Regions from separate parts of the Homo sapiens genome. Here all the other regions are linked to region 1. The links come from fine-mapping of genetic effects on gene expression. A gene starts in region 1. Each other region holds a variant in brackets. All regions are shown on one strand. Distances are from middle to middle.

Region 1 (5,135 bases):
AAAACTCTCCAGGGCAGTCAAACAAGTTTCGTCAATGTTTCTGGAGTAAAAAAAATAGTAATTTTTATTCCCAACACTTATCCATGCAGTTCCCCTCTGACTCAGAAATCTGAAATCCTCCATAAACCCTCCCAAAACGCCCAGGCGAAACTAATCTCTCCTCTAAATTGCAATAAAACTTCTGTCTTACGCCACTCACTCTGGACCACAAAGACATATTCACCACTTGGCAAATGTCACAACCCCAACACAAACCATGAACTACCAGAAGGCAAGCAGTAAGTCCCACATTTTTCACCACCATGTCTAGCACAAGTCTCTACATAGAATACGCACCATGTGGCAAATGTTAATAAATAAATGAGTACATAAATGGACAATGTAACAGAAATCATCTGTAAATACCCCAAGTAAGCCAACCTTATTTCCCTAACCGTGAAACACCTTAAGGTAAGAGAAGCGAAACTGAGTCTGAGTTTCAAGGCAGTGGTTTCACCGCACATTCAAATTCATGATCTGTCTTCTTTGTTCATCAAAACAATCCCGTGAAGTACATACTATTATACCCTTAAGTCAACTGAGGTTCGAAAAAGTAAAGTGACTCTCCTCAAGATCACACAGCTAGTAAATGGCAAAGCTGGGATGAGAGACCAGGCCAGGAGTCCAGCGCTCTTTCCACTGTTCTAATTCATCTTTTAAATCTCCTTCCCCTCCTTACCATCTATAGAGTTAAATAAAAGGAGAGAGGAATCAGTAAACAACTCATGATAACAATAACAACAGATGTGGTAAATTAATGACTTCCAAAGAACATTTGCCTGAAATTGCTTGTTTTTTTTTTCTTTGATTCATCTAGGGCAAGTAACGTTTTGGGAGACATTGCATTTAAACCTTATTATTCCATTGGACTGTGAAATAACGTTTCCGTCTAAACTTAAACCAGTGCCTTTCCAGACTCCAAAGATGGGCCCTTCCCTGCTGCACACTTACAAAGGAAGATAAGGCTCTTTCTCATCACAGAGAAATTAAGGAAGTAAGCAACGTTATGAGGACACAGCACTTTACAAAGTCAACTGGCAGTCATTACTAAACGTTATAAAGGACTGGTCCCATACCTGACTGTCACCAGGAATGGAGTCTTCCAAACTCCTACTTGTTAAACATTCCGATTTAACACAGAGACACAAAGAACCTCAGTTCAGGGCAGTCTCAACTCATGAATGACCACATTGTTGGGTACTCTCCTTTCACACTGAAACTCAGAAATGGAAAGACACGGAGATGGACCCAAACCTGGGCCAACCGCACTGGCAGAGCCAAGAAAAACCAAGAACGCGTCGAAGGCGCCCGCCTCCGCCTTCTCTGCACATCTTCAGGCCACTCCAAGGTATGCAGGAAGCTCCTGTTTCTGCAGCCGCAGGTTTCAGCACCCGGAGGTTTCAGCAAGCGCCAGTTCACGGGTGAAGGATTTTCCTGGGGGTCTTACCTGAGCGGAGGCGCTGGGGAGGGGGGGCGTTCTTCCCACGAACGGTGGCTCGGACCGCACGCTGCGCCAAGCTAGGGCGAGATCCCCACCCTGCGCCGCGCCCCTCTGCCTCGCAACCACCCACGGCCCCAGCCGGGAGGCGCCGCAGCCCCGGAACCCACCTCCGCGCTCCTGGAAGGATGGATGCGGAGGAGGCGGGAGAGAGGCGGCGGCTCCGGAACGAGCTGCTCCCACAGCCCCTCCGCTCCTCGCCGTCTCGCCTTCGTCCCCAGCTTACCCAGTTCTGCGCGTTATTGCTCAGTTTGACTTTCTTGCACAGGCTCCCGGGGATCTCCATGACCGCGGAGCGCGCTGAGCAGCCGGGGTTCTCTGCGCCGGGAGGGTAGCAAGAGGAGGGCAGGCCAGCGAGCGGGGCGGGGCTGGAGGGCGGGGCCTCCTCGCGTCGGAGCGGGCGCGCGCTGACTTAAGCACGCGCCCGTGCTCGTGGCCTGGGTTGCGCGGCGCATGCGGCGCGCCTCGGAAATGGGTCCGGGGCAGAGGTCTGTGGGGAAGGGCGAAACGCCGGGATAGAACCGGAGGTAGAAGCTGGGGGCGGAGCTTCAGCGCTCGCGCCGGCGCGGGCGCGCACGGCGCTCCTCCTTCCAGATCCCGATGAAGGGGCGGGGCCTGGAATGCAGTCGTGGAACCTCAGGTGCCTCTGCGGCACCGAGCCTAGCTCTGAGCTAACGCAGATCTCTAAGAGCGAGTACCAGCCGCCGGGAGAAAGGCAAGGGGAGTGCGCGGCTCGCCGCGCGCGGCACTCCCTCAGCAGAGGCTGATTGGGAGGACGCTGACGCGGCCTCTTGCACCTGTGGCTACTCCTCCACAGACCTGGCTGCCGACCTCCTGTCTGCCCCTTCTGTGCCCATGTCACCCTGGCCAAATGTTTTAAATGTTTTACAGCTTTGCAAAGGGAAGAATTGATTTACCGAACAGCTCATTCTCCACATTAAAATTCTACTCAAGACACAATTTTTTTTCTTTTTTTGAGACGGAGTCTTGCTCTGTCGCCCAGGCTGGAGTGCAGTAGTAGGATCTCGGCTCACCGCAACCTCTGCCTCCCGGGTTCAAGCGATTCTCCTGCCTCAGCCTCCCGAGTAGCTGGGACTACAGGCGTGTGCCACCACGCCCGGCTAATTTTTGTATTTTTAGTAGAGACGGGGTTTCACTATGTTGGCCAGGCTGGTCTCGAATTCCTGACCTCATGATCCGCCCGCCTCAGCTTCCCAAAGTGCTGGGATTCCAGGCGTGAGCGACAGCGCCTGGCCTCAAGACACAGTTTTTAAAAAGATATAATAAAAGCCCGATTTCTTGACATCAATAATTAATATCTCAACCTGGATTAGTGATTACTTATAAGGTGCCTCCCTCTCCGCTAGGAGACCCCACTTCGCATCAGATTTCTGTGCAGTGCTTCTTACCGACCTACACCGGAAAGGGGCTTCTGTATTATTAAGAGCTACTCAGGAAATACCTAGAGGACTGAAATCCAGGACCGGGGAGGCCGCAGGTAACCCCGAATAGAACTCCCGCCTACGGAGGACATTTTCAAATTCACCTAATTATTCCAGGGCTAGTTCGTAGGAGGATGGGCTGGGGGCATGACAGAGTTTCCTCCAGGAGTTATCTTCCCCACACCCCCCATAACTCTGAGTTCTCTTTTCCGCAGCTTGCCCCTGGCACCAAAAGAGTTGCTTGCAGCTCTGCCCCCCTGTGACACAGCCGCCCTCCGCCCCTGACCCCGCCCATCACCAAGACCTGAGACTGCTGCCTGTTAGTGACTAGCAAATTAGCCCCCATCACCAAGACCTGAGGCTGCTGCTGCTGCCTGTTAGTGACTAGCAAATCAGCCCCCATCACCAAGACCTGAGGCTGCTGCCTGTTAGTGACTAGCAAATCAGCCCTCCATCTATTTGCCCCACTGCTACTGTCTTAAATTAGGCCTCCCCTATATCCAGCCTGAGTTATCATTAAGCCCGTTCACTGGACATCCTCCCAGCTGTGCAGCCGCTCTCCACATCCCCGCCACACACCCCATTCTTGCACCTGCTGTCAGAGCGGTATTTCTGAAACAGAAATCTGATCTTGTTACTTGACTACTTAAAATGTGAATGGTTCCCTTCAGCTTTTTTTCTAGGGAATTTTCAATCTGGGGTTCATACATAGAACTGAATTTCAATATAATTTCAAATTCTGCCAATAACAGGAATGAGCTTGGAAGAAGATCTCAAGCTTCATATGAGAAAATAGGGCCACATCTGAAGTTAGCCATTGCTCTGAGTTCTGGTTCTTATTAGAGGGAAATGGTATTTAGATATAACGATCTGGCTCTAGGAGTGCTCACTGCTGTGAGTTTGACCTTATTTCTAGTAAAAGACTTTTTTTAAGGTAAAATATATCATAAGTTTACATTGATACTGTCCATCCAAATTCATGATTCCAGATATGGGTCATGCAAATGAGCCAGAAACATCAAACAGGAAACATAACAAAAAACTGTCAAAAGCTACTCGGATTATGTCAAAAGGACTCAGAAACCAATTTAAAGAAATTTTTCCATGTCAAAGATGGGAGAATTAAAGCACTAAATGGACTAGAACTACAAAATATTAAAACATATCAAATATGTTTAAATCTAGGTGTTTGTAATGATGATGATTTTAAAAAAAATTATTGTCACTCTTAGAGAATGCTAGGAAACCAACTCATTATTTTGAAAACTGGTAAATAAAGGGGATGAATTAAGCATTTACTCTGCTTTCCCTGGACTGTCTGGGACCCAAAAAATTGATAAAGAGAAGTTTCTCTTTACAGAAGTACCACTAATAAATAAAGAAGAAATGATATCATTTTAATATCACCACTTTTCATTTTCTACTGAAATAATGGATAAAGACAATGATCCTCTGTATTAGTCAGGGTTCCCTTAGAGGGACAGAACTAATAGGATATATACATATGAATGGGAGTTTATTAAGTATTAACTTACACAATCACAAGGTCCTACAATAGGCTGCCTGCAAGCTGAGGAGCAAGGAGAGCCAGTCTAAGTCCCAAAACTGAACAACTTGGAGTCCGATGTTCAAGGGCAGGAAGCATCCAGCACAAGAGAAAGATGTAGGCTGGGAGGCTAGGCCTATCTTGCCTCTTCACGTTTTTCTGCCTGCTTTATATTCCCTGTTAGCGGTTTAGGTGGTGCCAACTCAATTAAGGGTGGATCTGCCTTCCCCAGCCCACTGACTCAAATGTTAATCTCCTTGGGTAACAACCTGACAATGATCAATATTGCATCTTTCAATCCAATCAAGTTGACCCTCAGTATTAACCATCACAAGTCCACCCCTTGACAACTTGAACCCATACACATCTCCTGAGATCATTCATAATCTTCAAATAAGACAATAATAAGGTCATAATTATGTCTAACATAACTGAACTGTCCTTTGTACAACTGGAAATGCAGTCCCCAACTCACATACTATTACATAAAGTTAACAATACTTAAATGCTGATATGAAGTCAGTGAATCTCATATCACATGATAAAGGAAAAGGAAATAAAATGAAGATATTTTCTTAGTACAAGTGTATGCATGCACAAACATGTTTTT
Region 2 (5,135 bases), 22 kb after region 1:
GCTCCTCTGGCACAAGCATGACAGAAATCATGCACAAATTGACAGTGGGGATTCTGGCAGCCCAATTCTCCTTGACAATCACACAGAAAAGTCTGTATGACAATCACACAGACAGGCCTGCGTAGCACTTCAGTTACACAGACTAAGTTCCACAGAGCTGCCTTAACATTGAGCAAATAGTTAAACCTAGGGAAATCAGTGCCCAGACATCAAAGCTAGAAATGAAACGTATGGTCAGTAGGAGCCTTGCATGGGCTTCTCCGTAACCTAGAGCAAACCAAAATAAAGAGACAGTCTTGCATTTCTAGTGCCAGGACCCATCTCGGGTCGATGAAATCTGAGATGAGTCAAGGCATGAGAGGCAGCTGTTTGAATAAATTCATTGGAGCGCCTAAGGCAGATCTCCAGACCAAGCTGTAAGGGAGATAAGATAGAAGTCATCACTGTTGTACCACAGTAGACAGGCCTTGAAGGTACTGGGCCCTTTTAATCAGACTTAGCAAGCATTTTTGTCTCTGATCTTCTAGTCGAAGCAAAATTAGTTACCAATAGGCTTAGGCAAACGCTATACTGCATGTAGGCACATAACCCCAACCTATATAAGCACTAAGAAAATTGTAACACTCTGAGTTGGTCTGGTGGAATTATCTCCGGCCTTCTCCCTGTATCCAGTTACAGCAATAAATTCCATTCTTCCCTAGTTTGTCTGCTTCCCGTTACTGGGCCACGAGAAAACGCAGCCAGACCTGGCTTGGTTCCAGGAACATGTTCCACAGAAAATGAAAGGAGAAAACATGGCATTCAGAAAACAAGAATTTTTACACTGGAGACAACTGAAGGGAATCACCAGACTGATGGAAGGGAATCCCAGGATGACTGTGTGTCCCAGGTCTAGAGGGTGATCAGTGAGATGGCTCTCAGAGAGGTCAGAAGCCCTCAGAGACCTTGTTTGAAAAAAATGAAATTGATAGAGTATCCACTAGGAATAATTATATTAAAAATGATTCAGACAACAGGAAATAGTTCAGGGTTAAATTCGTGATAACTACTTAAAGTCATCAAAAAGGACACATTTGTCCTACCCTCTCTGTACAAACTGTTTTTCAGGGGAATCAAACAGTTGATAAAGGAAAAGTTTGTACTGACAGAAGAATTTTAGCTAATGCAGAAAAAATACTGGATTTATTATTTTTATTTATTTATTTTATTTATTTATTTATTTATTTATTTTTGAGACAGAGTCTCGCTCCGTTGCCCAGGCTGGAGTGCAGTGGCGTGATCTTGGCTCACTGCAAGCTCTGCCTCCCAGGTTCATACCATTCTCCTGCCTCAGCCTCCTGAGTAGCTGGGACTACAGGTGCCTGCCACCATGCCTGGCTAATTTTTTGAAAAATACTGGATTTAAAAAACGCCATTTAAAATACCTTATGAAGTAATATTAACAGATATAGGCAATGATCATCAGTGAGTGCTAAAAAGTATTAGGTGAAAGGTAGGAAAGAGAATTTTATAATGAGGGGATCAGGCTGACACCACCTGCATCCACTGATCAATCTTAGCATCTCTAAAACTGAGATGCTAAATATCTTGTGCCTTATAATGTGACATAATTAGCTGTGCTCAGCATTAATTGTCTTAGTTTGGGTTGTTTAAGAAGCAGGCCTAGGGAGAAGGATTCTAGTACAATAATTTGTTTGGGAGGTGATCCTAGTGGATCTAGTGGAGCAGGAAAGTGTTACAGGGACAGGAAGGAAACCAATAGTGTTTCATCAAAGAGGCATCCTAGGGCCAGACGTGGTGGTTCAGGCCTGTAATCCCAACACTTTGGGAGGTGGATTGCTTGAGCCCAGAAGTTGCTTGAGCCCAGAAGTTGGAGACCAACTTAGCCAACATGAAGAAACCCCCTCTCTACAAAATATGCAAAAATTGGCTGGGCGTGGTGGTGCACACCTGTAGTCCCAGCTACTCGGGAGGCTGAGGCAGGAGAATTGCTTAAACCCGGGAGGTGGAGGTTGCAGTGAGCCATGTTCATGCCACTGCACTCCAGCCTGGGCCAAGCAAGACACCGTCTCAAAAAAAAGACATCATGGGAAACTGAAGCTTAATCCCACTAGGGAACACTAAGAAACAGCATTGAACATATGCCTCAGAGTATATTACCTAAGAGGAGAGGGAGTTGGGGTATTTATGCAACACTCTTCAGTTGTTAGTCAAGGACTACTCTCAGGAAATATTCATTCCCTCATATTTTTGGATTGCATGCACATAGGTCAAGAAGACACTGGTCCCAAAGGAAGCCCTCATGCAAAGAAATGGAACTATTCACAGGTGGAAGTCAGAATGATATTTGCCATGATAGTAGGAATTAAGGGAAAATGGGTAGGCACCAGCAGTGTTTCCTATACTGCCCATGAAGTATTCCTTAAAACAAAAAAAATAGCATGTGTATATTTCTGTAATGTTTCTCTTTTTTTAACACAAGAAGTTACTATTTTTTAAGAAGAGAAAAAACAACAAAGAATTCCACAAGGAAAACTATGCATATGTACACACATGTGTATATGTACACACAAACATTCAGAGGAAAAATATTATGCTACAAGCAAAAGTAATGATGGTTTTACTACATAGCTCAGTTCTAAATCATACA[T/G]AGTCATGATAATGTAAACTATGAATATAAACCTTAACAAGATTGCAATATAACTAGATGGAAAAGTTGAAGGGATATGAGAATAAGTATGTGTGTGGTGGTGCTGGTAGGAGAAGAGAAATAAATTTTCACTTTCTATTGTGAGAAACCAATAACTAATGCTTCTAAGGTCTGAATGTTTGTGTCACCTTAGGATTCACATGTTGAAATCCTACCCCATGCCCAAAGTGATGGAATAGGAGATGGGGCCTACCCATTCAAGTCTCTGGGACTTGCCAGAAGATTTCTAGGTCAGTCTGAGAAAATTACCCCTCTAGTCAAGCAGTTTCATTTTACCAATGACTCAGCAAAACTGTGAAGGTATACCTTCTCCACCAAGGAAATTTACTCGAATAAAAGCATGGTAAGAGGAATAGGGCTTAAAGAAACCTTGAAATATCACTTATTAATTTCATCTGAAGCATTTCCTTGTGGTTAACATAGTCACTTTTTTCCTTAGAAAAAAAGCCCCCAAATAATGAATTTTATAAGTCCAGGTTATTAAAAATTATATTATTAAATTATGGCTTGCCTGTAATTTAAAGGAGCTCTTCACAGTGAGTGGAAATAACTTCCTAGAATTCTAGGTTTCTACCAATTATGTGGCCTTGAGTAAACCATGTAACTTCATGAACCTCAGCTTTCTCATCTGTAAGATAAGGGCTGGAGGTGGATAAATTTATCTCAGGATGTTCTTTCTGCTCTAAAATTATTACAGGTTCTTAATTTAGGTGCCAGTAATATCTGAGAATAGTAATTTAATCAAAACCACAAATGGTCTTTGTACCCCTTACTCTATGTAAAACATTGTCTTAATATTAATAATTTCTATATGTTAAAGTAACTGAGTAGTAAGTAATGAGATGCAGCATGTATTCTTTTCCCTGGCTTCTTTTAGCATAATTATTATGAGATTCATCCAGCGTTTTCATGTGTATCAGTAGTTCACTCCATTTTATTGCTGAATAGCATTTTTATGGATATACCATGATTTGTTTATTCTTTCATCTTTTGATGGACATTTGGGTCATTTCAGTTTGGGGCTATTGCAAATAGAATTGCCATGAACATTCATATACAAATCTTTGTGTGGACATAGGCTTTCTTTTCCCTGGGTAAACCTAGGAGAGGAATCACTGGGCCATATGATAGGTGTATGTTTAATTTTTGTAGAAACTGCCAGAACTGCTTTCCAAAGTGGTTGTACAATTTAACATTCCTCACAGTGACATATAAGAGCTGTAATTGCTCCACATCCTCACCAACACTTGATATGGTTGGTCTTTTTACTCACTGTAGTCATATGCAACAGTTTCTCACTGTGGTTTTAATTTGCACTTCCCTAATAATTGATGATGTTGAACATCTTTTCATGTGCTGATTTCCTATCTACATATCTTCTTTGGTTAAGGGTCTGATTAGATATTTTGTCTTTGTTTTATTCAGTTCATTCTCTTATTATGTTTTTAAAATTATATATCCCATCTCAGACATTTTATTTTTTATCTCTAGAAGTTCAACTTGGGTCTTTTAGAAAATATCTTTCATACCTCTATTTAACATGAACAATCTTCCCCCATCCTTTTGAATTTATGAAATATAACTATTTTAATGTCATTATCTATTAATTATATATGTTTACTTCTTTTTGTATTGATTCATTTTTCTCATTCATACCTTTTTCTTTTTGTTCTCTTCTTTCCTCCTAGTTATTAAGCCTCTGACATTGTGAATTTTACCTTGTTGAGTACTGCATATTTCTGTACTCTATTAAAAAAAATTCTTGAGCTGTGTTCTGGGTCACAGTTAAGTTACTTGGAAATAGTTTGATTCATTCACATCTTGTTTTTAGCAGCTTTTTGTTTAGGGTTAATTTTTCTCTATTACTCAGAACACCGTCTTGAGTACTTTGCCCAATGCCAAAGTTTTCCGCTCTGGCTGGTGGGAACACAAACTCTTTCTGCTGGGTGTGAGCTCCGACATTTTCCCTCTGCTCCTTTTAGGTGGTGTTTTCTCTGGCCTACATTAGTTTTCTCACTTGTCTGTGTTCAGGTGGCCTTTCTATAATCTCCGGAGCTCTCTCTGTGGTAGCTCCCTCTTCGCTGGTAATTTGCCCTATCTCTTGGACCCCAGCTTCATATCCTTAACTCAGCGTAACTGCTGGTTTTTGTCTAGGCTCCTCCTCCCATCGCAATAGCCTGGAAACTCTCTGCAGTTAGTAAGCTGGGGCAATTATAGGGCTTACCTCATTTGTTTTCTCATCTCTCAAGGATCACTGTTCTTCACTGCCTGTTATCCAAAGTCTGAAAACCACTGTTCCACAGAGTATTGTGTTGAGGTTATTTTAGTTGTTTCAGGTGAAGTGTATGTCCCATCCCTGCTACTTTCTTTATCTGCCTAGAAGTTGAAGTTGCCTTTTTTAATACTATTACTTTTTATAGTAAAA
Region 3 (5,000 bases), 26 kb before region 1:
TTTACAAGAAAAAAACATTAAAAAGTGGGCAAAGGGTATGAACAGACACTTCTCTTAAGAAGACATACATGCAGCCAACAAACATGAAAAAAAGCTCAACATCACTGATCATTAGATAAATGCAAACGAAAACCACAATGAGATACCATCTCACACTCGTCAGAATGGCTGTTATTAGAAAATCAGGAAACAATAGATGCTGGTGAGCTCGTGGAGAAAAAGAAATGCTTTTACATTGTAGGTGAGAATGTAAGTTAGTTCAACCATTGTGGAAGACAGTGCAGTGAATCCTCAAAGATCTTGAGGCAGAAATACCATTTGACCCAGCAATCCCAGTACTGAGTATATACCCAAATGAGTATAAGTCACTCTATTACAAAGATACATGCATGAGTATGTTCACTGCAACACTATTCACAGTAGCAAAGACATAGAATCAACCTAAATGCCCATCAACGATAGACTGGATAAAGAAAACACGGTGTGTATATATATATATATATATCATGGAATACTATGTAGCTAAAAAAGGAATGATATCATGTCCTTTGCAGGGACATGGATGGAGTTGGAAGCCACTAACCTCAGCAAACTAACACAGAAACAGAAAATCAAACACTATATGTTCTCACTTATAAGTGGGAGCTGAATAATGAGAACACACGGACACATGGGGGGAAACAACACACACTGATGACTGTTGTGGTTGGGGAGGGAGAACATCAGGAAGAATAGCTAATGGATGCTGGGCTTAATACCTAGGTGATGGGATGATCTGTGTAGCAAATCACCATGGCACACGTTTACCAATTTAACAAACCTGCACATGTAGCCCTGATCTTAAAATAAAAGTTGAAGAAAATAAAATAATGTGTTAAGGTACCTAACCTAAGTCTCCATCTATAACTGGAAGTCAGCTGACACTGTGAAAACAGGAACAGGAGGGAGAAGAGTGCTTTCCAGGCAGGGAGGAAACAAAAATCCTGAGATAAGAAATGACATAATTTTTTCAGAGAAATACACAAACATGGTTTGTTGTTGCTGCAGTCTCTAAAATAAGAGGAACTATGATGCAAGCTAAGAACAACGAATTCTGAGCAAAGAAGCCATGGTAGGGCACATGTTAAGAAAGTTAGATTTTCTCCGGAGTTTGACATCTGTCAAGTATTCACTATAGTTTTATTAAGTTGAAAAGTTGAGCCTGAAATAATTTGGCCATTGGCTTAAATTCAATGACTGTGTTATACTTCACGGCTTTTTTAAAAGCAGGTTTTATCAAAACCAGATTTACTTAGAAAGTCACAGCATAGAAATGTTTTAGGTTATTTTAATCCTATGTTACAGGAACAAAGAGATGGTAGCTGGGGAGGAGTAGAGTTAGCCTCAAAGCACATATCAATGTTTAAAGTATGTGCTTTGCCTGATACCATATTCTCAATAAATGTAAGCAGAAAGGCAATGGCACAAAAACCACATACCTGAGTGTAAGGTGATATGAAACTTGTGATGCACACTAAGCCAGCATCTGCAAACAGTTTAGCAACTTCTGCGATGCGTCGAACATTCTCTTCTCTGTCTTCAGGACTAAAGCCAAGATTTTTATTGAGACCTTGACGAATATTGTCACCATCCAGAGTGTAGCATGGAATACCATGACAAACCAGGTACTCCTCCAAGGCCATGCTCACAGTAGTCTTTCCCGCTCCAGACAAGCCTAAAATTAAACAGTCCAAACAGATTCCATGTGTAAAGTTAGAAGGATAACTATGTAGTAATACTTTTTTTTTCCCAGAAACAAGAGTCTTGCTCTGCCACCCAGGCTGGAGTGCAGAGGCTGCATAGCTCACTGCAGCCTCAAACTCCTGGACTCAAGAGATCATGCCTCAGCCTTCCAAATAGCTAGGACAACAGGCACATGCCACCACATCCAACTTATTTTATTATTTGTAGAGACAGAATTCTCAATATGTTGCGCCAGCTGGTCTCAAACTCCTGGCTCAAGAGATATAAAAAATTGCAATCACAGGATTAAATACATTCATTATGCAAAGCAATCTCTCAGTAATGTTCTTATCTAATATTTCTCTTTAAGATTTACCTCTTGCCTAGGAAAACACCTACAGTTTAAACATAATAAGTGTTTGTTTTAATGAAATATCTATGAGCAAACGTATCAGAAATCACTGATAAACTTCAGAAAGGCTTAACTAATTTTATTAGCAGACATGGT[TG/T]GGAATTCACTTTGTCCTCTCGTTACCACTTTTCTAAAGCTGCATGCCAAATTTTAAAACAAAGTCATATGCCCAAATTATTTCTGGTGAGGGAAGAAAAAGAAAGGACAAAAGAAAGAAATGTTACAAAGGTACCTCCATTTTCCTAGATCATCAGCACTCACAAACCACCTTGATACAATTATCTGGGAGTCCAATTTATAATATAATTAATTTTAATAGAACACCCTCATTTCAACTCACCTTCCTATACCAACAGTATTTACTCAGTAAACAAAGAGAAGGAAAGAGTACATTTATGCACTATTACTTGCCAACTTGGCGAGTGTCATAACCAAGATAGTTCTAAAACAAGAGATAAAATACTAAAGTCTAATGTACCAATGCTCTTGAAAGAATTCATGGTAGTACAGAAGGCTAACTGGAATAAAAAAAAAAATAGAAGAGAGGGCTTTTTTTTGGTTCCATATGAAATTTAAAGTAGTTTTTTTCTAATTCTGTAAGAATATCAAATGGTAGTCTGATGGGAATAGCATTGAATACATAGATTACTTTGGGCAGTATGGCCATTTTCACGATACTGATTCTTCCTATCCATGAGGCTGGAATGTTTTTCCATTTGTTTGTGTCCTCTATTATTTCCTTCAGCAGTGGTTTGTAGTTCTCCTTGAAGAGGTCCTTCACGTCCCTTGCAAGTTGTATTCCCAGGTATTTTACTCTCTTTGTAGCAATTGTGAATGGGAGTTTATTCATGATTTGGCTCTCTGCTTGTCTATTGTTGGTGTAGAAGAATGCTTGATTTTTGCACATTGATTTTGTATCCTGAGACTTTGCTGAAATTATTTATCAGCTTAAGGAGTTTTGGGGCTGAGACTATGGGGCTTTCTAAACATAGAATCATGTTATCTGCAAACAGGGACAATTTGACTTCCTTTCTTTCTATTTGAACACCCTTTATTTCTTTTTCTTGCCTGATCGCCCTGGCCAGAACTTCCAATATTATGTTGACTAGGAGTGGTGAGAGACAGCATCCTTGTCTTGTGCCGGTTTTCAAAGGGAATGCTTCCGGCTTTTGTCCATTCAGTATGATATTGGCTATGGGTTTGTCATGAATAGCTCTTATTATTTTGAGATATGTTCCATCAATACCTAGTTTATTGAGAGTTTTTAACATAGATGTTGAATTTTATCAAAGGCCCTTCCTGTGTCTATTGAGATAATCATGTGGTTTTTGTTATTGGTTCTGTTTATGTGATGGATTACATTTACTGATTTGCATATGTGGAGAAAATTTTTGCAATCTACCCATCTGACAAAGGTCTAATATCCAGAATCTACAAGGAACTTAATACAGAAGAAATAAACAACCCCATCAAAAAGTGGGCAAAGGATATGAACAGACACTTCTCAAAAGAAGACACTTAGGTGGCCAACAAACATGAAAAAAAGCTCAACATCACTGATCATTAGAGAAATGCAAATCAAAACCACAATGAGATATCATCTCATGCCAGTCAGAATGGCTATTACTAAAAAGTCAAGAAACAACAGATGCTGGAGAGGCTATGGAGAAATAGGAACGCTTTTAAACTGTTGGTAGGAAATGTAAATTAGTTCAACCATTGTGGAAGACAGTGTGGTGCTTCCTCAAGGACCTAGTACCAGAAAATACCATTTGACCCAGCAATCCCATTATTGGGTATATACCCAAAGGAATATAAATCATTCTACTATAAAGATACACGCACATGTATGTTTATTGCAGCACTATTTACAATAGCAAAAACATGAAACCAACCCAAATGCCCATCAATGATAGCCTGGATAAAGAAAATGTGGTACATATACACCATGGAATACTATGCAGCCATAAAAAGGAATGAGATCATGTCGTCTGCAGGGACATGGACGGAGCTGGAAGCCATCATCCTCGGCAAACTAACACAGGAACAGAACACCAAACACTGCATGTTCTCTCTCATAAGCGGGAGCTGAACACATGGACATGGAGGGGAACAACATACACTAGGGCCTATCGGTGGGGAGGTGGAGGCCTCCCAGTGGGGGTAGGTAGGGGAGGGAAAGCATCAGGATAAATAGCTAATGCATGTGGGGCTTAAAACCCAGATGATGGGTTAACAGGTGCAGCAAACCACCGTGCCACAAGCATGTAACAAACTGCACGTTCTACACATGTATCCCAGACCTTAAAGAAAAATTTAAAAAAAAAAGAAGAGGAGGATATGTTGAGAGCATCGATACAGTGTCAGTTGCTTTATACATTAAAAACCGATATTAATGACTGTAGCCAGCTGCATTTTCCAAAGATGGCTGCAACTGAATATCCCATCCTACAAGTGTCTACAATGTGACTTTACTACTGTCACATCAAGAGGTACTAATTCCCTGCCCTAAAATGTGGGCTGGCCTTAGGACTTACCTGCAGCCAAAAGAATGTAGTGAAATAGTGACACGATGATGTGTGACTACCAAGGCTAGGTCACAAAATGCTATGCAGCTTTTCTTTGGTCACTTAATTTGGGAGAAGCCAGTGACTAAATCCCTTGAGACCACCATGCTAACGTGATCCCAAGCAGGTGTACCAGCCACTCTCAGCCCGCTAAGCTCCCAGCTGACAACCAGCAGCATCTGAGTAAGTCATCTTGGACATCCTGCCCAGCTGAAACTTCAGATGACTGTGGCCCAGGCCAGCATGACAACAACCAAGCAAGCCCTAAGCATAGCTGCCTATCTGAGCCCTTTTAAATC
Region 4 (5,135 bases), 850 kb after region 1:
TTTAGTTTCAAAATAAATAATGTTAGTCCTTTTCCAAACACATGGAAAATGGATAAATCAGTAAAAAAGAATAGAAGAGGCTGGGCGCGGTGGCTCACTCTTGTAATCCCAGTACTTTGGGAGGCCGAGGCAGGCGGATCACTTGAAGTCAAGGAGTTTGAGACCAGCCTGGGCCAAAAGGTGAAAGCCCATGTCTACTAAAAATACAAAAATTAGCCAGGTGTGGTGGTGGGCACCTGTAATCCCAGCTACTTGGGAGGCTGAGACAGGAGAATCGCTTGAACTCAGAAGGTGGAGGTTGCAGTGAGCCGAGATGGCGCCACTGCACTCCAGCCTGGGTGACAGAGCAAGACACCGTCTCAAGAAAAAAAAAAAAAGGACAGAAGAATGGATGAATCAGACAGCACAGGTTAAGCACAATGCCCAGTCTATAGCAGCTTCTGGTAAATGCTAGTTCCAGTGTCACCTCCATTCTGGCTCTGCCACCAACTAATTGACCTTGAAAAGTCATTAAACTCTCTGGACCTCACTTTCTTCATCCGTAAAATGAAAGTGTTGAATTATGTGATCTCTGAGAGCCCTTCTCATCTGTAATTCTATATTTCTAAACCCACCCCCTATATCCTTTGGTTTCCCACCACACCACAGTTTCCAGAAAGGAAAGCAGAAACTCTCCATTGATTCCTACACTGTCAATTATGTTCTATGATCATCAACTCTGTATAAAGACGTGAGGACACACAGATGAATATGTTACTGTCCCTGACCTCTGGAAGCACATAGCTAAATGGTGTAATTCACTATAACACGTATAGGAAGAGCTATGTTTGAGTTACGAACAAATGCTGTGGTAACACATTGGACAGTACTATCACAGAGTTCATAAAATGATTGTTTTAATTTAGCAAATTCGATCAAAAATCAATTGAGTCGTGTGCTTGGCATTACCCCAACGATATAAGTAATAAGTTGGATTTTTCTCTTTTTGACCCTATGCTCTAGGTTTCACTTGGGTATAGCCTAAATATCTAAGAAGAAATGAAAATGGTGCTAAAACTCATCCCTCCTTTTCGGAAGCATGGCTTTATTAGAAAAATCAGCTGTAGAAGTTGTGTCTTGATCTACTTACTGTGGACTTTCCTGAGAACAGCAAGTCCTCTTGCCAACATTTGCCATGCAGATACCAGACTGTGAGTTGAAAGTCTGTACAAAGCAATTTCCAGTGGAAGCAAAGCCATCAGATCCCCTGCAGGCATAGTCAGCAGTATCTCTTTCAACTCACCCGGTCTCAGTGCTGCCCATGGTCCACAAAATAATTCATTTCCACCTCAGCTGCTGAGACCTAAAATTCCCCTATTCTACTTCAACTCTTTGCAAATTGGAACTCATGCTGGTTCCATTTGCTAATGGTGACCACGGCCAGTCCCTCCAAATTCCTGTGTTGACGGACAAAGGCATAACTAAATTTTACCAAACCCTGGAGCTGTTTAGTGTTTTAGGACTCTGAAGCATTTATTTCTGTCCCACATAGAAGCTATTCTCTGCTATGAAATAGAAAGATTTCTTAAAAGAAAGCGTTTGATGACCTAGTTGGTGAAAACAGAAATGATTAAAACTTAGGCAAATAATCCACATATTGCTATTACCTTAATGATTAAAACATGCAGCTCATTAATTTAACCTGACAGTGGGCCCTTTTGTGGGTAGACAACTCATACGTAATGTCTTACTGCAGCTGAAGAGACTTGTCCCATGCCAAGCCTGGCTCCCCATTTCTTTTATTACTGAGAAGGCATTGGTACAATCCAAAATGATTAAAGCAATAGAGATTGAATTGCAGACAAAGAACATCAGACTGGATCAGGAATGGGAAAATAAAACTCCAAACAAGAATGAGACTCAAGGGACTAATGATCAAAGCATTCAAGTTTCCCTTTTTAAAAAAAAAAAAAAAAAGCTGGAATATTCAACTTTCTACTTTATGACACCTCAGAAAAAAAGTTTACATCATCTATTAATACAGTAATGCTTTTTATCTGGGAGGAGTTCTTCCAGGATTCCTAAAAGAGAACCCTTTATATATATATATATGAAATCTTCCAGGATGCCTAAAAGAGATTTTAGGATTTTAGGAATCTTCCAGGATTCCTAAAAGAGAACACTTTATATATATATATATGTATATAACATATATACACATATATGTTATATATTTATATATATGTTTTATACATATATATATATAGA[G/T]AGAGAGAGAGAGAGAGAGAGTACAAAATATGTCAGAGGTGTAAGAAAACTAATGAAACAAAGTTCCTGGATCCAATTCTCCTTGTCCATAGCTACTCCTTGTATGAAACTGGAGAAACTCTTGAACTTCTTTATTGGTAATGATTATTAGTGGAATGGCATCTAACCCATTTAATTATGAATCACAAGAGATCAGCAAAATTTACATGACACAAAAATTACAGAAAAATAAAAGAAAAAATCTTCAAGATTTACTGCCTCCATATGCCTCCATATACCTAACCCATGAAAAAGGAAATTTTCTCATTATAATTATTTCTTTGCACAAAACAAAAGCAAATAATTCAAACCTCCTTATCATTCAAAAAGCAAAGAGTATTTTCTATTGCTAATAGTCAACATTTTAAATACCCATCTTAGGCTGGGTGCGGTGGCTCATGCCTGTGATCCCAGCACTTTAGGAGGCCAAGGCAGACGGATCACTTGAGAACAGGAGTTCGAGACCAGCCTGGGCAACATGGTGAAAACTCATCTCTACTAAAAATACAAAAATTAGCCGGTCATGGTAGTGTGCATCTGTAGTCCCAGCTACTCCAGAGGCTGAGGCAGAAGAATGGCTTGAACCGGGGAGGTGGAGGTTGCAGTGAGCCAAGATCATGCCACTGCACTCCAGCCTGGGCGATGGAGTGAGACTCTGTCTCAAAAAGAAAAAAAAAAAAAAACTATCTTAAATCACTTCACAGTCATCCAAGTTGAACCTTATTCTTTTTCTTCTTAAGATTGAGCTAATCTACTATTAATGGAAACTGTACCCTTAAGTGACATCAGGTTTGCCTACCAAGGAGATTCAGGCCCTCTCTGTTCTGCATCTTCTTTCACATCCTACCCATTCCCAGGAAGCCTTCTTGATCTAACTTATGCTACAGAATATCAGATATCAGATGAGTGAGGGGCACTCTCTGTGGTTCCTGTTGAGATAGATCATATTTTAACTGAATGGGAGATTTAATTCTGGAATTTCACTGTTAGCCAGTTTTTCTCCATAGAAAGGTGATCAAGGCAAATGCTATATGAATATTCTCCTCTTTACTATAGGTGGGTTCTTCTTAAGTCAAAACAAATTTATGGCCAGGTACGGTGGCTCACACCTGTAATCCCAACACTTTGGGAGGCCAAGGAGGGTGGATCACTTGGGGTCAGGAGTTCAAGACCAGCCTGGCCAACATGGCTAAACCCTGTCTCTAATAAAAATACAAAAATTAGCCAGGTGTGGTGGTGCACGCCTGTAATTCCAGCTACTTGGGAGGCTGAGGCAGGAGAATCGCTTGAGCCTGGGAAGAGGAGGTTGCAGTGAGCCAAGATTACACCACTGCACTCCAGCCTGGGCAACAAAGCTAGACTTCATCTCAAGAAAAAAACAAAACAAAATAAAACAAATTTATCGTCCATAATAAAATCGTCAAAGGGGCCAGGTGCGGTGGCTGACGCCTGTAATCCCAGCACTTTGGGAGTCCAAAGCGGGTGGATCACCTGAGGTCAGGAGTTTGAGACCAGCCTGACCAACATGGTGAAACCCCACCTCTACTAAAAATGCAAAAAATTAGCCAGGCATGGTGGCAGGCACCTGTAATCCCAGCTACTCAGGGGGCTGGGGCAGGAGAATCACTTGAACCAGGAGGCAGAGGTTGCAGTGAGCCAAGCTCGCGCATTGAACTCCAGCCTGGATGATAAGAGCAAGACTCCATCTCAAAAAAAAAAAAAAAAAGTCAAAGGAAAACTCTTAAGTGGACTGTGTCTAAAGCAACCCACTATACCCATGTGTTGATAGAAGAGCTGTGTTGCCTATTAAGACAAAGTAACTAAATGGTGATGCCACAATTATTAGTTTTTTATTTGTATAGATGGGGCTTATTTCTAGTTAATACTTCCTCTGGCTTGGGAGAGTCAGTGATAGGATATTGACACCTACGTGTAATGTTTAAGGCAAAATGTTGGTATTTTAGATGAATTCTTTCATTTAAATTTCTCCTTGTGATCTACTGGCTTTACAGTGCATTTATCATGCTTCAATATTAGAACCTTTAGTTTGGGGCTAACAGAAATAGTTCAGCTAATGAAAATAATGATTTTTTCATGCTGTACTACATGGTAATTTAAAGCATTTCAATTAAACAAACTGTCTCATTAGAGCTCCTTGATAATGTAGTTCCATTTGCTTTGATATGGTCAGAAATCCCAAGGATGCTTTTGGGATACTCTCTAACTCTCATATGAACTTGCTTAAGAATGTTACCATACACCAGACATTTTAGAGTATTCAAATGACCTATTTTAAAAATGTTTGAAGCCATTTTATGGTGTGGACCCAGAACAAATTACCCTTATTTAATAAGTAGCTTTCAGTTTGTGTTCCAAAAGTCATCTGAATTCTACCAATGAGGTTTATTTTTTAAAGCTCCATTTTTCTCATATTATAAGATTTGAAAGCACATTCATTCATAAAATTCTCATTCTGGGCCAGCAGCGGTGGCTTAAGCCTGTAATCCTAGCAGTTTGGGATGCCGAGGCAGGCGGATCACCTGAGGTCAGGAGTTCGAGATCAGCCTGGCCAACATGGAGAAACCCCACCTCTACTAAAAATACAAAAATTAGCTGGGTGTGGTGGTGCGTGCCTATAATCCCAGCTACTTGGGACACTGAGGCAGGAGAATCGCTTGAATCTGGGAGGCGGAGGTTGAAGTGAGCTGATATCATGCCACTGCACTCCAGTGACTCCAGTCTGGGTGACAGAGAGAGACTCCGTCTCAAAAAAAAAAAAAAGAAAAAAAATCTCATTCTGTTAAGTCTTTGTTTTTCACAGAATAATCTTATGATGAATATTATAATGT
Region 5 (5,135 bases), 880 kb after region 1:
GGTAAATGTACGTTTTACTTTAACTTATGTTAAGATATTGTTATTGTTTTATTATAGTACACATTTTTCTTATACATTATATATATTATACATACATTATTTCTTATGTGTTATACATAATATTCTTATGTATTATACATAACATATTCTTATGTATTATTTCTTATGTATTATACATAAAAACATCACCAATGTAGCCAGTACCAATGGACTGATTTGGTTTGAATGATTTTTTTCTGTGAACTATGTAACACTGCAATGTGTTTATTTGAATATTTTGTGCAAACAACAAGAGTTATAGTGATACCTACTTAAACCATCCTTCATAATTAAACTTATCCATCCTGCCAATCTCTGCCTTTTAATTGGCGTATTTAGATTAGTTATATTGAAAGTAATGATTGGTGTGCTGGGCTTAAGTTGGCTATTTTATTAATTGTTTACTGTTTGTTCCCTCTGTTTTTCATTCCTCTGTTTCCCCTTTCTCACCTTTCTGTGGGTCACTTGAAAATGTTTTAGAATTACATTTTGACTTTATAGTTTTTTGAGTATATTTCTTTGAATAGTTTTCTTAATGGTTTCCCTAGGTATTACAATATACTTGCATAATTTATCACAGTCTAACAGCGTTGACATTTTACCACTTTGAGTGTAGAAACCTTACTTCCATTAGGTCCTTTCACTCTTTCACTTTTTTAAATTGAAATGTTTGTTCTGCTAATTGTAGATTCACATGCAGTTGTAAGAAATAACAGAGATAGATTCCTTATATGCTGATTCCAGTTTTCCTCAATGGTAAAACTTTAAAAAACTGTATCATAACAGTATAACTAGGATACTGACATTGATACAATCCACAGATCATATTCAGATTTCCCATTGGAATCATTTGCATGTGTGTGATGTATTAAGTTCCATATATATATTATATATATGTATATGTGTATATATACGTGTGTGTGTGTGTGTGTGTGTGTATATATATATATATATATTTTTTTTTTTTTTGAGATAGAGTCTCCCTCTGTTGCCCAGGCTGGAGTGCTGTGGCACAATCTCGGGTCACTACAACCTCTGCCTCCCGGGTTCAAGCCATTCCCCTGCCTCAGCCTCTCAAGCAGCTGGGATTACAGGCTCCCACCACCACACCCGGCTAATTTTTGTATTTTTAGTAGAGACAGGTTTCACCATGTTGGCCAGGCTGTTCTCGATCTCCTGACCTCAGGTGATCCACCCACCTTGGCCTCTCAAAGTCCTGGGATTACAAGCATGAGCCACCACACCCGGCCAAGTTCCATATATTTTTATCTTCTGTGCAGGTTTGTGTATCTACTGCCACAGTCAAGATGCTAAACAGTTCCAACACGACAGGGAGCCCACCTGATGCCTTTTACACCCACATCCACCTCCCTCCCACCTCTGCCAACCACTTTTTAAGATTCTAGACTAACAAGATGACTAATATCCTAAAATATCCTGCATTCTGCAGAGAAACTTGGAATAATGTACAAATTAAATCCATTACTTCTCATCCCTTCAGAAATTATCAAATAATCATAAAAAGGCAGGATATTGAAATTGATGCAATCTACTGATTATATTCAGATGTTCTAATTTTACTGGTATTCATTTGTGTGTGTGTGTGTGTTTATATATTGTTTTCTGTTTTTGTCTTTATTTTTATTATGTGTTTATATATTGTTTTATACAATGTTATCACCTATGTAGGTCATGTACCCACTACTACAATCAAGATATTCAACTGTTCCAAAACACAAAGATCCTCTGTGTTGCTCTCATAACCACATCCTCCTACCTTCCCCTGCCCCCACCCTCTGGCAACCATTTATCCTGGCAATATATATCCATTTCTAAAATTTCGTCATTTCAAAATGTTAGAAAGATGAAATCACACAGTATACAACCTATAGGTGGCTTTTTTTTAATTCAGCATAAT[T/C]CCCTAGCAATTTATCCCTCCCCACCTCTTAAACATAATGTCTTAAGTATTTCCTCCACATACATTGAATATCACATCCAATTGGTATTATAATTTTTTAATCCTGTGATGGGCAGAATAATGCCCACTCTCAAAGATGTCCACATCCTAATAACCCAAAACAGTTAATAGGTTATGTGGCAAAGGAGAAGTAAGGGAGCAGATGGAATTAAGGCTGCTAATCAGCTGACTTTAAAAAGAGAGATTATTCTATACTATCAAGGGGAGCCCAATATAGTCGTAAGGATTCATAAAAGTGGAAGAGCAGTCAGTTCTATGCCCAGAGTCCCAGCTACTGGGGAGGATGAGGTGAGAGGATTGCTTGAGCCAAGGAGTTCCAGGCCACTCTGGGCAATATAGCAAGACCCCATCTCACACAAATGTACAGACGGACAGACAGACAGACAGACAGACAGACATAAGTGTGGGAGAGAGAGACAAAAAAGAAAACCAGAGAGGTAGCAGTGTGAGTGTGAGACGGACTCAACCAACACTGCTGTCTTTGAACGTGGAAAAAAGGTGCCATGAGCCAACAAAAGCAGCTGTCCTCTAGAAAATGGGAGAGACAAGGAAATGCAGTCTCCCCTAGTCTCCAGAAGGAATGCAGCCCTGCTGACACCTTGATTTTAGCCTAGTGAGACTCATTTTGTGCTTCTGCTCTCTAGAACTATCAGATAATACATTTGTATTGTTTAAGCCCTTGTGTTTGCAGTGACTTGTTAGAGCTGCAATAGGAAACAAATTTAAACCATTAAACATAATTTTTAAAACATAAGAGATAAAAAATATTCTATTATAGTTACCCTATTTTTTCTCATTCCGTTGTTCTTTCTTTCTTTCTAAAGTTCTATGCCTGCTGCTATCATTTCCTTTGAAGAATATCCTTAGTCATTCTTTAAAGGTAGGTCAACTGGTAATTCTCTTAGTTTCCTTCGTCTGAGAAGAAATTAAATTTAAATACCCAGTATTGTAACCATAATAAAATCATTTTTATTTTATTTTTTTAATTTTTTTCTTTGTTTTTATTATTATTATTATTACTATTATTATACTTTAAGTTTCAGGGTACATGTGCACAATGTGCGGGTTAGTTACATATGTATACATGTGCCATGCTGGTGTGCTGCACCCATTAACTCGTCATTTAGCATTAGGTATATCTCGTGCTAACCCTCCCCCCTCCCCCCACCTCACAACAGTCCCCAGAGTGTGATGTTCCCCTTCCTGTGTAGCTTAAAAATGAACCAAATTTAAATATAAAATGAATGCATACCACTAATGCAGAATAAAGTGGAGATACAGAAACTAGTACTACAACTGGGCTATTAAAAGAAAAGGACTGGCCGGGTGCAGTGGCTCACGCCTGTAATCTTAGCACTTTGGGAGGCCGAGGCGGGCAGATCACCTGAGGTCAGGAGTTCGAGAGCTGCCTGACCAATATGGTGAAACCCCATCTCTACTAAAAACACAAAAATTAACCGGGCATGGTAGCGGGTGCCTGTAATCTCAGCTACTCAGGAGGCTGAGGCAGGAGAATCGCTTGAACCCAGGAGGCAGAGGTTGCAGTGAGCCAAGATCGTGCCATTGCACCCCAGCCTGGGGGACAGAGCAAGACTCCGTCTCAAAAAAAAAAAAAAAAATGCCGGGCGCAGTGGCTCACGCCTGTAATCCCAGCACTTTGGGAGGCCGAGACGGGTGGATCATGAGGTCAGGAGATCGAGACCATCCTGGCTAACACAGTGAAACCCCGTCTCTACTAAAAATACAAAAAATTACCCAGGTGTGGTGGCGGGCGCCTGTAGTCCCAGCTACTCGGGAGGCTGAGGCAGGAGAATGGCGTGAACCCGGGAGGCAGAGCTTGCAGTGAGCCAAGATCGCACCACTACACTCCAGCCTGGGGGACAGAGCAAGACTCCGTCTCAAAAAAGAAAAAAAAAAAAAGAAAAGGACTGAAAGAAAGCATGTCACAAATTCTACGATGAATGGAAATTGCAATTTGCTGTAACACAGCAAAATGAAAAAAGCTATTTGTGTGTAAAAAATATTTTAAGCAATAAATTAGACAATATTAAGAGACATTTTAAGTAAATACATAATGAATTTGGTAAGACATTTCCCCTTGGAAGTCAAAAAAGAAATCAAAATTGTAGTTCAAAATAGGAGTTGAATATACGACCAAAAAATCCTTAATGCTTCTTAACAGGATCTGAGATTATAATTTTATTTTATTTATGTTTTTAAGACAGAGTCTTGCTGTGTTGCCCAGGCTGGAGTGCAGTGGCACGATCTTGGCTCACTGCAACCTCTGCCTCCCAGGTTCAAGCGATTCTCATTCCTCAGCCTCCCAAGTAGCTGGGACTACAGGTGCACGCCACCAGGCCTGGTTAATTTTTTTGTATTTTTTGGTAGAGATGAGATTTTGCCATGTTGGTCAGGCTGGTTTCAAACTCCTGACCTCAGTTGATTTGCCCACCTCAGCCTCCCAAAATGCTGGGATTACAGGCATAAGCCACCGCACCTGGCCCCTGAGCTTGTAATTTTAGACAGCTAAAAGATGTGTTGGATTCTTACAGAAAGAAAGGAGGGAGGGGAGGAAGGAAACAGAAAAGGAAGGAAGGAAGGAAGGAAGGAAGGGAGGGAGGGAGGGAGGGAGGGAGGGGAAAGGGAGGGATGAAAAATGAAAGTCATTTTAAGTCAGATAGTAAAACAAATTATTTCAGTTGTGGAAATTTTGCTAGAAAATTATGAGAAAAAGACTAAAGAAGATATTTTACAAAAAGTGAAAGACCTTCAACTAAGCCATTAAAAAATGGCCCATAGATTACAAGAACTTTCCAACGATACAGTATCAAAGATCAATTGATTAACAATTTAAAAAATTACAAGTACTTTTCTTTAGCTTTAAAATGGATGATGTGATATAAGAGACAATGTCAGCCGGGCATGGTGGCTCACATCTGCATTCCCAGCACTTTGGGAGGCCAAGGCGGGTGGATTACCTTAGGTCACAAGTTCAAGACCAGCCTGGCTAACATGGTGAAACCCCGCCTCTATTAAAAAAAAAAAAAATTAGCCAGGCGTGGTGGCAGGCACCTGGAAACCCAGCTACTCGGGAGGCTGAGGCAGGAGAATCACTTGA

Direction of the effects. Positions count from the first base shown, and alleles are read on the strand shown. Sizes are in standard deviations (SD) of each study's normalised expression. Not every link is listed here.
For the expression in B cells of the gene that starts at base 1,878 in region 1, G is the high allele of the variant in region 4 and T is the other (large effect, 0.79 SD a copy in CEDAR).

Evidence for each region.
Region 2: its variant is fine-mapped to the expression of PAPSS1 in whole blood (INTERVAL, PIP 0.98).
Region 3: its variant is fine-mapped to the expression of PAPSS1 in whole blood (INTERVAL, PIP above 0.99).
Region 4: its variant is fine-mapped to the expression of PAPSS1 in B cells (CEDAR, PIP 0.95).
Region 5: its variant is fine-mapped to the expression of PAPSS1 in whole blood (INTERVAL, PIP 0.97).

What each region holds. Positions count from the first base shown.
Region 1 is chr4:107,718,357-107,723,491 of GRCh38, forward strand. It overlaps PAPSS1 (3'-phosphoadenosine 5'-phosphosulfate synthase 1), which reads right to left and starts at 1,878. Exons shown (of 12, transcript NM_005443.5): 1 at 1,764-1,878. The coding sequence starts at 1,823. RefSeq lists enhancers at 1,131-1,190, 3,181-3,330 and a silencer at 1,821-2,070.
Region 2 is chr4:107,740,773-107,745,907 of GRCh38, forward strand. No RefSeq gene overlaps it. Among named protein-coding and RNA genes, the nearest start is that of PAPSS1, 23 kb to the left of the region's middle. The variant T/G (reference allele first, on the strand shown) is at 2,651.
Region 3 is chr4:107,692,293-107,697,292 of GRCh38, forward strand. PAPSS1 (3'-phosphoadenosine 5'-phosphosulfate synthase 1) reads right to left here. Exons shown (of 12, transcript NM_005443.5): 3 at 1,479-1,714. Among named protein-coding and RNA genes, the nearest start is that of PAPSS1, 25 kb to the right of the region's middle. The variant TG/T (reference allele first, on the strand shown) is at 2,231.
Region 4 is chr4:108,573,308-108,578,442 of GRCh38, forward strand. The region is part of intron 1 of RPL34-DT (RPL34 divergent transcript); the gene reads right to left. Among named protein-coding and RNA genes, the nearest start is that of RPL34-DT, 45 kb to the right of the region's middle. The variant G/T (reference allele first, on the strand shown) is at 2,248.
Region 5 is chr4:108,599,914-108,605,048 of GRCh38, forward strand. The region is part of intron 1 of RPL34-DT (RPL34 divergent transcript); the gene reads right to left. Among named protein-coding and RNA genes, the nearest start is that of RPL34-DT, 18 kb to the right of the region's middle. The variant T/C (reference allele first, on the strand shown) is at 1,958.